Regions from separate parts of the Homo sapiens genome. Here all the other regions are linked to region 1. The links come from fine-mapping of genetic effects on gene expression. A gene starts in region 1. Each other region holds a variant in brackets. All regions are shown on one strand. Distances are from middle to middle.

Region 1 (2,684 bases):
GTGAGGGCTCCGAGGCAGGAGAGTGATAAAGGCCACCTCCTATTGCCTTCTTGGCACAGGAGAGAGGGGCTAGGGCTGGCTGATAGGACGACTAATCTTATGGGAGGCTGTGGATAAAATGCCCCCTGTGGCTTCCCCACTTCCTATTCTTGGAAGCCAGAAGTGGGTTTCAGCCCTCCTCTGCCCATAGATCCTGATCCTCAACCATTTGGGGATCCCTACTTGCCCTTAGTTAGGCTTCCTAGTCCACAGTGGGCCAGCTGGTCTGTACTACCCAGGGCTGGGGCAGGAACGGAGTAACCCACTCACTGCAATGTAGCAACTGAACACAGAGGAAAACAGGTGTAACCACATGAGCGGCTGAAAAATCAGAGTAACTGGGACAGGAAATAGAACATAACTGGTGGGTCTGCCAGACCTAAGAAGTGCAAACAGAGTCACTCAGAACAAAACCAGGGTGAAACTGGTGTGACCAAGGAGTAACTAGGACTGAGGAGTAACTCAGGCAGGGAAATGCTCACTCAGAGAACCCACAGAGTAACCAAGAGGCCAGGGAGTAACCAGAATGCTTGTCGTCTTCTGCACAGACGCTGACAGCATCTGTCTGGATAACAGACAGGGCCTGGGAGTCGCTGAGCACCAGGTGAGCAACTTTAGACACGCGTCCTCTGTGCCTGGGCCTAGCTTCCTCCCACCCTTCTACCGTCAGAATCTGCCTCCCTTCCCACTTCGCTGTTCGCAGCCCATGTGGCCTGCACCCTCTGCCCCCACTCGTGCAAACTGTCCTCACTCACTTCAACCTTTGGACTTTTTGAGGCTTAATTATTCATTAGAGGCCAGACACCCAGGACCCAAATAACCTAATAATGGCTCATTTGCCTCCGCCCCCTCCCCTACATCTGGGGGCTGGGATTCTGGGAATCTGGAGGGGTGTGGGAGGCAGGGGAAGTGGCTGGCTGTCCCAGACTGCAAGCGTGACCGCTGCCCCCAGCCTGTTGGCTGAGTCACTTGTGGGAGGGTAAACGATCGGCACTATCACTGGGGAGTAACAGCTGTCATTCTGGCAAGAGTCGGAGCTGTCAGAGAGGGGGTTAGAACCGTGGGGAAGAGGACTTTGGAAGTCAGCTTGATCCTCCGCGGTTAAGCGTGGGGGTCACAGCTGGGGAGGTGGGTCCAGGCTACCTTGGAAAACACAGCCCCTTCGGGGAAGTGAGAGTTTGGGGAGTGCAAGGGCTGGAGAGAGAAGGGCTTCCCCGGCTCCCTCCACTCACCACCAGGATGAGGGTCCCCAGGCACTCGGCCAGCGCCTGTCGGAGCAGCCGGTAGCGGATGTGGAGCATCTCCCCGCAGCGGGACACCAGCTCCTTCTGTCGACCCATGGCGGGGCAGGCGGCGGCGCTGTCGGGCGGGCAGGGGTGGCGGGAGGCGGTGGCGCAGCGAGCAGCGGCCTCCAGCGCTGGTGGCTCCCTTTATAGGAGCGCTGGAGACACGGGCCCCGCCCGCCCTGCAGCCCCGCCCTGCAGTCCCGGAGCGCCGAGGAGTGCGCGCCCCCTCGCCCCCGCCCCACCTCGGCTGGGAGGCTGGTGCGGACGCCGGGTGGAGGGAGCTGCGGGCATGGAGTGTGAGGAGCTTTGAGGGACGGGTGGCCTTCGGAGGGCGCTTAAGGGAGGGGACGTCAAGGGGGCTGAGAGGCTTAGGCAGATCTGAGAGCCAATGGTGGGATTATAGGCAGGGTTCAGGGCCATGGCTGGAGAGGATGCAGCTGTCATAGAGACCACCTGCGCCCTGTGATCACCCCACTTCCTTGCGGGCAGGAGGAGACCTGTCAGAAAGAAACTGGCCGCATCTCTCCAGGATGACTGGACCCAACAGATCCTCAGTTCGAGGCAGGAGGAGGAGGCTGCGAGCCCCAAGTGAGAAGCAACACTGTCTCTTCTGTCAGGACAGATAAGGCACCGACCCTTCAAGGGGACAGCTAGTGTCAGAGGGGCAGCAGTCCAGACTCAGGTGGGCACACAGACACACGTGCTGAGTTCCAACCAGACTTCATGGGCCCTTCTCCCTGTGCTATGAGCACGTCGTGTGTCGCATGTCCTGGCCAGCTATGTCCACAGCTGTGTCTACACATGGCGGATGTCCTGTGTGCCTAATTGTACGGCTGGGCATTCCTCGTGGCTGTGCACATGCCTGTTGAACATGGCTAGGTGACCTAGCTTGTCACACGTGTACCTGCGTGCATTGCTCACATGGCTCCAGAGGCTGAGCTGCAGTTGCCCCGACATGCCACATGCCACATGTTTGCCAGCAGGCTGAGTCCCAGCTGTTTTTAACCCTCTCCTCTCCCATCTGACTTACCCCCAGCCAAGGAAGAGTCTGTCTCTTTTTTTTTTTTAGACGGAGTCTCTCTCTGTCGCCTAGGTGGAGTGCAATGGCGTGATCTCGGCTCCCTGCAACCTCCACCTCCCAGGTTCAAGTGATTCTCCTGCTTCAGCCTCCCGATTAGCTGGGATTACAGGTGCACACCACCATGCCCAGCTAATTTTTGTTTTTTTAGTGGAGATGGGGATTCACCATGTTGACCAGGCTGATTTCGAACTCCTGACCACAAGTTATCCACCCGCCTCAGCCTCCCAAAGTGCTGGGATTACAGGCGTGAGCCACTGAGCCCAGCAAGTCTGCCTCTT
Region 2 (2,684 bases), 22 kb before region 1:
ATAGAAAGGCGGGAAGGGTGGGGAAAAAATTGAGAAATCGGATGGTTGCCGGGTCTGTGTGGATAGAAGTAGACATGGGAGACTTTTCATTTTGTTCTGTACTAAGAAAAATTCTTCTGCCTTGGGATCCTGTTGATCTGTGACCTTATCCCCAACCCTGTGCTCTCTGAAACATGTGCTGTGTCCACTCAGGGTTGAATGGATTAAGGGCGGTGCAAGATGTGCTTTGTTGAACAGATGCTTGAAGGCAGCATGCTCGTTGAGAGTCATCACCACTCCCTAATCTTAAGTACCCAGGGACACAAACACTGCGGAAGGCAGCGGGGTCCTCTGCCTAGGAGAACCAGAGACCTTTGTTCGCTTGTTTGTCTGCTGACCTTCCCTCCACTATTGTCCTATGACCCTGCCAAATCCCCTTCTGCGAGAAACACCCAAGAATGATCAATTAAAAAAAAAAAAACAAAAAAACAAATATTTACGTATGATAATGAGAAGAACACTGTCCTAGATGGCTGAAATGCTAATAGTCTTTAATTCACTATTTTCTTATTCTGACTGTTGCAAAGATTTGTAGTTTTATTGATGATTCTCACTCATGTTCTAAAATAGGAGTTGGCAAACTATTGGCTGCCTGTGTTTATGAATAAAGTTTTCCTAGAACACAACAACAAAAAAAAAACAAACAAAAAAAAAAAAGAATCTAGTTTTTGCTTTCCAGAGGTGAGAAGAAGGGGTCTTCTTCAGGAACCCCGAGCCCCATCCTCTTAGCCCTCAGTTTATGTTTTTTTTTTATTCTTTATTTTTTTGATTCTTTTTTTTTTTTTTTTGAGACGGAGTATCGCTGTGTCGCCCAGGCTGGAGTGCAGTGGCCCGATCTTGGCTCACTGCAACCTCCACCTCCTGGGTTCACGCCATTCTCCTGCCTCAGCCTCCTGAGTAGCTGGGACTACAGGCGTCCACCACCACGCCCGGCTAATTTTTTGTATTTTTAGTAGAGACAGGGTTTCACTGTGTTAGCCAGGATGGTCTCTATCTCCTGACCTCATGATCCGCCCGCCTCGGCCTCCTGAAGTGCTGGGATTACAGGTGTGAGCCACGGCGCCCGGCCTTCCCTCAGTTTCTTGAAACTCCCTTGGAGAACAGAAGATGAAATACAGAGTTGACATGTCATGCCCAGATTCCCTTTTCCCTAATTACAAGAAAGTGTTTTCCCTGTTCCGTGAGTAACTAACTGCCTTTCTCTAAGTGGCCTCACTCTGATGAGTAACTGAAAATGCACTTCTCTGTTTGAACTTTGTCAGAAGTGTCCGTGCCAAAAAGCTTTGAAATGCTCAAAAGTACATAAAATAGAAAGGGACCGCAAACATAAAACAGGAAACAAACAAGTTAATCAAGTGCTTAGCATAGTGCCCAGCACATATTAA[G/A]GACTTGGTAAATGGTATTTATTAACTCAACAGACATTTATGGATTTCCTACTGGAAGTCAGGCACTATGGGGACTTGGCAGTGACCAAAACATAGTTACTGCCCTCCCACAGCGTCCTGCCTGGTGGGCAAGACAGCCTTAAACACATGATTACACGAATGGTGGTTAGTTATAAGTGTTAAGTGTCAAGGTACTGGGGGGCTATCACATCAGGATAAGGGGACACTGATGAATTATAAGGTTACACTGGGGTCGGGCATGGTGGTTCACGCCTGGAATCCCAGCACTTTTGGAAGCCAAGGAGGGCAGATCACCTGAGGTCAGGAGTTTGAGACGAGCCTGGCCAACATGGTGATACCCCGTCTCTACTAAAAATACAAAATTAGCCGGGCATGGTGGTGCATGCCTGTAATCCCAGCTACTCGGGAGGCTGAGGCAGGAGAATCACTTGAACCTGAGAGGTGGAGGTTGCAGTGAGCTGAGATTGGGCCATTGCACTCCAGCCTAGGTGACAGAGCGACGCTCCGTCTCAAAAAAAAAAAACAAAAACACAGTTGGGGTACGGTGGCTCACACCTGTAATCCCAGCACTTTGGGAGGCCGAGGTGGGCAGATCACCTGAGGTCAGGAGTTCGACACCAGCCTGGCCAACATGGTGAAACCCCGTCTCTACTAAAAATACAAAAAAATTAGCTGGGCATGGTGGTGCACACCTGTAATCCCAGCTACTTGGGAGGCTGAGGCAGGAGAATCACTTGAACCCGGGAGGCAGAGGTTGCAGTGAGCCAAGATCTCGCCATTGCACTGCAGCCTGGGGGACAGAGTGAGGCTCTGTCTCAAAAAAAAGGGGATATATTGGGGAATTCTAAAAAGGAAAATAATTGTCATGTTAATAAATGGAGATTTTAGGGCCAGGCTGGGCAGAGGCAACTGCCAGTTGTCATGAGTGCATGCAGAGAAGATTCAGGGCTTCCTGGAAAAGGCTTCTACCTGGTATTTATTTAATACCCTGGGAATAAGTGCCTAGGCCCAAGGCCTAGCCCACCTAGAGGTCAAAATGAAGCATCGCTTGCCAGGGCAGACGGCAAAGCTAAGTGTAGCAAATCCAGGTCAGGAAGCCCAGAGGAGGCCAGAGGCTGGAAAGGCAGGGGCAAAGTCTCAAATGTGGGCACATGTTGAGCATGTCAAAGAGAAAGACACCAAGGGGACCTCAGTGAGGGGCTTGAGATCAGAGGATGTGGATGATGATCGGGAGGAGGC
Region 3 (2,684 bases), 30 kb before region 1:
GAGACAGGGTAAGATCTGAGCTGGTTCCCGGGCTCAGGCTGGAGTTCATGGCAGCTCACTCCAGCAGCAGGGTCGGGGCCCATGGGCAGGGATGGGTGGAAGGATTTTTCCAGCCTCACTGAGAGCAGGTCTTGGCCTGTCACATCACTGTTTTGAAGTTTATTTGGAAGCTCAGCCCCAGAACTCTAATGCCTCACATCTCCAGGAGGTCTGAACCCCTCTGTGGGGCAGTGCAAGTTCCCTGGAGGCTGCGATCTGATTTCAGCCCCTAGTCCTTCAACCGAGCAACACAGGGGACACCACCATCCCCCATAGGAAGCCTCCAGGACCGAGCTTTCCTGACTTTCCGTGCGCCTCCATGAGAATCTGTTACCCAGCAGCCTGGCAAGGTGACCCCACAGGGATTATTGCCCCTCTACAAATTGAGCCCCAGACATGGTAAAGGGACATCTCCAAAGTCACCAAGTGAGAGCTTCCTGGCTCCTAGTCCAGACTCTTTGGCCCTCTTCAAGCATCTCTCAGATCATGGAGTGTGATGGGAAGGCAGCACCAGGCCCCAGGTGCCGGGGCAGGGGCCAACACACCAAGTTGTGGAGTGTGCATACAGTGCCACACAAACCAGGGGCATGCGCAACCTGGGGCTGACGTGCTCACCCCACAGCCCCTCAGACCAGACGCAGCCAGGACCCTCACGTCCCTCCTGCCTGCAGAGGGGGTAAGAGAAAGCAATGACTGAGTGCCCACCTGCCACTCACTGCTCCCAGCCTGCCTGTGTGGCCTGTGGGGTGTAAATGCCGTCTCAGGGTTAGGACAGTGGAACCACCCTGGCCTGCAGCCGGGAGCTTAGGGATAAGGTTAGGGAAGCTGCTGCCGTCACCACAGGCTTAGGGTGCCCAGCTCTGCCAGCTGATCCAGCCAAGTCCTTCTTGGGGAAGATGAGCTGTCATTAGAGAGCCCTTCCCACCTCTCAGACCTCCGCTTCTTATGGCTCGACAGGCTCTGAAGCTGCAATCCTTCTTTTCAGGAAGACACCTGTCACATGTGCGTGTGCTCTGGGAAGTGCTGTGTGTTCATCCACACTACCTCCGCCCATGCCACATGCCCCCTTCGCACCTGTGGCACACAGTCTAGGGGGCTGTGTGCCTGGGGACTCCCTATGTATGCTCAGTCAGACACGGGTACACATCTTGGACCCAGGTGTGTAACACAGCATTGCGCCCATATAGGTGAACACACAGGTGCTATATTCTGCATCCCTCCTACCCCTTTCAGAGCAAGGACCATTTGAGGGTGAGGGGTGAGTCACCTGCCAACCTGTGGGACCTGCTGAGCTAGCAGGATGGGAAGCCACAAGCTGACAGCTGTGGCTTCAAGGGACCAACACCCTGCGTGGGGCCC[G/A]CCCAACCACCAGCCTCCAGCGCCCCCAAACCCCTTACCTCCACCCTTATTAAATCCTACCCACACCCTCAGCCAAGACTCATGCCAGAAAGGCACCTCTATTCCTTTACAATATATATCTGCAGCTGAGCTGTCGCTGCACCTCATGGGCTACTACCAGACCTCTGCTTCTGTACAGATGCCTCAGGGAAAAACCAGGGTGGCAGCAGGACCCATCCCTCTCCTCTCCTCTGTCCAAACCCTGAGACTCCTAACTATGCCCCCCATGGAACCCCTTCTTGTTGATAATTCATACCTTTTGCGCCTCTTATTGAGCACAGAGCCCCATTCTAGGCCCAGACGGGCTCTGTCCCCTCCTGCCCTCTCTCACCTCTGTATTCCTGCTCAGAAGTCTGTCCCCAAGTCTGGGAACTCCCTGAGGACAGAGGGGCAGTCTGCAAACATAGACAGAAAACCAGGAAACCCGAGTAGCCCAGGTGAGTTGATCGTCCCCCAGATGAAGGAAGCTGGTTAAAAGCCCTCCTGGCTCCTCCTGTGCTTTGCCAGCACACCCAATTAGTTACCAAGACAAGTCTTGCTGGGTCTAAAGAATGTCCTCAACTCCTACTCTGTGCCAGACGTATCTGTAAATACATGGTCAACTTTGTACATGCGTCACTCGGCTGGGCATGGTGGCTCACACCTGTAATCCCAGCAATTTGGGAGGCTGAGGCAGGCAGATCACTTGAGGTCAGGAATTTGAGACCAGCCTGGCCAACCTGGTAAAACCCCATCTCTACCTGGGGTCCCACCATACAAGTGACCTCACCAAGGGACTGTTCTCCACCCTCTAGCCACTCCCCATCCCTACCGCAGAGCCAGGACCTAGCCTAGCCCAGTATCTGTCTCTGCAATTCCTGGAGACAGTCGCCAGGTAAGGGCAGCTGGCCTGCTGGAGCCACCTCACCCACCTCTGATCTTTGCCTAGGATCTGCTCCTGCCTGTCTCCTGGTTCTCCAGGGCACACACCCCACCCTGGGGCCGAGGCTCCACTATCCACCTGTCCAGACTTGCCTTCCATCCTGCGGGCCGACACGCCCAACCCAGCCAGTGCCCTGTGGTAGAATGTCTCACTCAGGTCAGAGAGTACAGCAGGAAGAGGGGGCTTGAGGGGGCACCTTCCACCCATCCCCATGGCTGACACCCCTTCCGCAACTCGGGAAGGTCCCTGAAGGACCTCAGGACCCAGTTCACCAAACTCCTCAAGCTTTATAGGTAGGTGGAGTAAAGCCCTGAGGGCCAGACCA
Region 4 (2,684 bases), 37 kb before region 1:
GCAATGGCACAATCTTGGCTCGCTGCAACCTCCGCCTCCTGGATTCAAGTGATTCTACTGCCTCAGCCTCCCAAGTAGCTGCGATTACGGGTGCCCACCACCATGTCCAGCTAATTTCCTTCTTCTTAAGGCTGAACAATATTCCATTGTATGAATGTACCACATTTTGTCTATCCATTCAGTTATCCCTGGACTTGAGTTGCTCCCCTCTTTCGGCTATTGGGAATAGTGCCGATATGAACATGGGTGTGCAATTATCTTTTTGAGATCCTGCTTTCAATTATTTTTTTTTTAATTTCAGGTTTGGGGGCACACGTGAAGGTTTGACATATAGTAAACACATGTCATGGTGGTTTGTTGTACAGATTATTACATCACCCAGGTACTAAGCCCAGTACCCAATAGTTGTCTTTTCTGCTCCTCTCCCTCCTCCCGCCCTCAAGAAGACCCCCGTGTCTGCACTTTCCTTCTTTGTGTTCGTAAGTTCTTATCATTTAGCTCCCAATGCTTTCCATTCTTTTAGATATATGTGCCCTTGGCATTTTTGCCCTTTTGGGCCCCTTCTTCCAGCAAATAATAATAATAGTAATAATTAATTCTATTTTACAACTATTGGTATAAAGACAAATATATTAATTTTTTTTTTTTTTCCGAGACAGGGTTTCACTCCCGTCACCCAGACTGGAGTACAATGGTGCGATCTCAGCTCACTGCAACCTCTGCCTCCTGGGCTTAAGCGATTCTCCTGCCTTGGCCTCCCAAGTAGCTGGGATTACAGGTGCCTGCCACCACTCCTGGCTAATTTTTGTATTTTTTGTAAAGGCGGAGTTTCTCCATGTTGCCCAGGCTAGTCTCAAACTCCTGAGCTCAAGCAATCCACCCGCCTCGGCCTCCCAAATAAGTGGAATTATAGGTGTGAGCCACCACGCCGGCCCTGATGTATCAATATTAAAACATTTTCTTCAGCCTACAAGTTCTTCTTTTTCTTATTTGGATGCAAACTAAAACATTTTGTGGGCCCTTAGATTGAACATTCTCATGGGTCCTGTGCCTCCTGTGCGTCATGGAGAAGGCAGCCCTGCATGGCTCTCA[C/T]ATCCTCTTCCCCCACGCAAATGCTGCCACCTCCCCAGCCTCCATCTCCAGCCCGGAGCTCAAGAACAAGTGGTCCAGCCTCCTCTCTTGTTATCTCGTATGTGTAACAAGCACATTACCTTCACCTGCCCCAACCCAACCTCACCTCCCCACAGTCTGCCCCCTTCCCAAGGGCCTAGCCCAAGGAATGCTCCTCCCCACCACATCTCTGAAGCTTTCCCTCCAGGAGTCACTCAACTACTCCCTCTCTCGTGGCCCCCTCAATCAGCCCCAAATCTAATCTCCAAGAGCCTCTCCACGGGTCTCCCGGTCTGCATCCCCCTTGAAGTAGGAGGCGGGACTTGACTCCAGAGGTGGGGCTTGGACACTGGACCAGATTGAGGACTAGCTAAAACAGGGCTGGAAGCAGCTTTCTAATCAGACATGCGCCCCAATGTGCCATGTTAATTTATCATTGCCATCTCAACACCTGGGAGTTATCACCCCTTTCCATGGCAATGACCCAATGGCCCAAAAGTTACCACCCCTTCCCTAGGAATTTCTGCATAAATTGCCTCTTAATCTGCATACAATTAAAAGTGGGTATAAATATAACTGCAAAACTGCCCTGGGCTGCTGCTCTCCGCCTCTGTATAGCCCTGCTGTGCAGGGGCAGTCATGGAGCTGTAACACTGCCGCTTCAATAAAGCTGTTTTCTTCTACTTCTCTCTGCATTGCCCTTGAGAGGCAAAGCCGAGAACCCTCGCAGGCCAAGCCCCACTTTGGGGCTCACCTCTCCTGCATCACCCTCACTCATTCTCCATTTTACAGCCATTTTTTTCCCCTTTTTGAGACGGAGTCTCGCTCTGTTGCCCAGGCTGGAGTGCAATGGAGCGATCTCAGCTCACTGCATCCTCCACCTCCCAGGTTCAAGAGATTCTTGTGCCTCAGCCTCCCAAGTAGCTGGAATTACAGGCACCCACCACCAGGCCCGGCTAATTTTTGTATTTTTAGTAGAGATGGGGTTTCACCATGTTGGCCAGGCTGGTCTCAAACTGCCTATTTTATTTTATTTTTATTTTTCTGAAATATGTTAAATTCCAGCTACTCTGTCATTTCATTCCTACATTCTTCAGTGTTCCCTCTAAAATATAGGAACATTTTCTTAAATAATCAGTGCCATACCTGACAAAATATACAATTCCATAGAATGATCAAATACTTGGAATTGTTTCAAAGTGTCTTTTTGCATTGATTTGTTGGATTGTTTGCATCAGGATCCAAACAAGGTCACACATTACGTTGGGTTAAATGTTCTCTTAAACAAGAGGAATTCCCCTTTCTCCATCATTATTTTTTCATGTCATTGACTTGCTGAATAAATGTAGTCCTGTAAGAGTCCCACATTCTAGATTTGTCTGTGTTTTTTCTTTGTAGTGTCATTCAGCTTTTCCGTCATCCCCTGTATTTCTTTGAGTAAGTGGCTGGGCACAGTGGCCCACACCCCTAATTCCAGCACTGTGGGAGGCCAAGGCAAGTGGATCATTAGAGCCCAGGAGTTCAATGCCAGCCTGGGCAACATGGAGAATTCCAATCTCTACAGAAAACACGAA

The links. PIP is the estimated chance that this variant, and not a neighbour inherited with it, causes the effect.
Region 2: its variant is fine-mapped to the expression of AQP3 in lung (GTEx, PIP 0.90).
Region 3: its variant is fine-mapped to the expression of AQP3 in whole blood (TOPMed, PIP above 0.99).
Region 4: its variant is fine-mapped to the expression of AQP3 in whole blood (TOPMed, PIP 0.95).

Annotation. Positions count from the first base shown.
Region 1 is chr9:33,446,152-33,448,835 of GRCh38, forward strand. It overlaps AQP3 (aquaporin 3 (Gill blood group)), which reads right to left and starts at 1,442. Exons shown (of 6, transcript NM_004925.5): 1 at 1,272-1,442. The coding sequence starts at 1,379. RefSeq lists a silencer at 1,428-1,617.
Region 2 is chr9:33,423,963-33,426,646 of GRCh38, forward strand. No RefSeq gene overlaps it. Among named protein-coding and RNA genes, the nearest start is that of AQP3, 22 kb to the right of the region's middle. The variant G/A (reference allele first, on the strand shown) is at 1,425.
Region 3 is chr9:33,415,882-33,418,565 of GRCh38, forward strand. No RefSeq gene overlaps it. Among named protein-coding and RNA genes, the nearest start is that of AQP7, 15 kb to the left of the region's middle. The variant G/A (reference allele first, on the strand shown) is at 1,399.
Region 4 is chr9:33,409,581-33,412,264 of GRCh38, forward strand. It overlaps LOC105376020 (a long non-coding RNA gene), which reads left to right. Exons shown (of 3, transcript NR_188543.1): 3 at 660-970. Among named protein-coding and RNA genes, the nearest start is that of AQP7, 8.4 kb to the left of the region's middle. The variant C/T (reference allele first, on the strand shown) is at 1,093.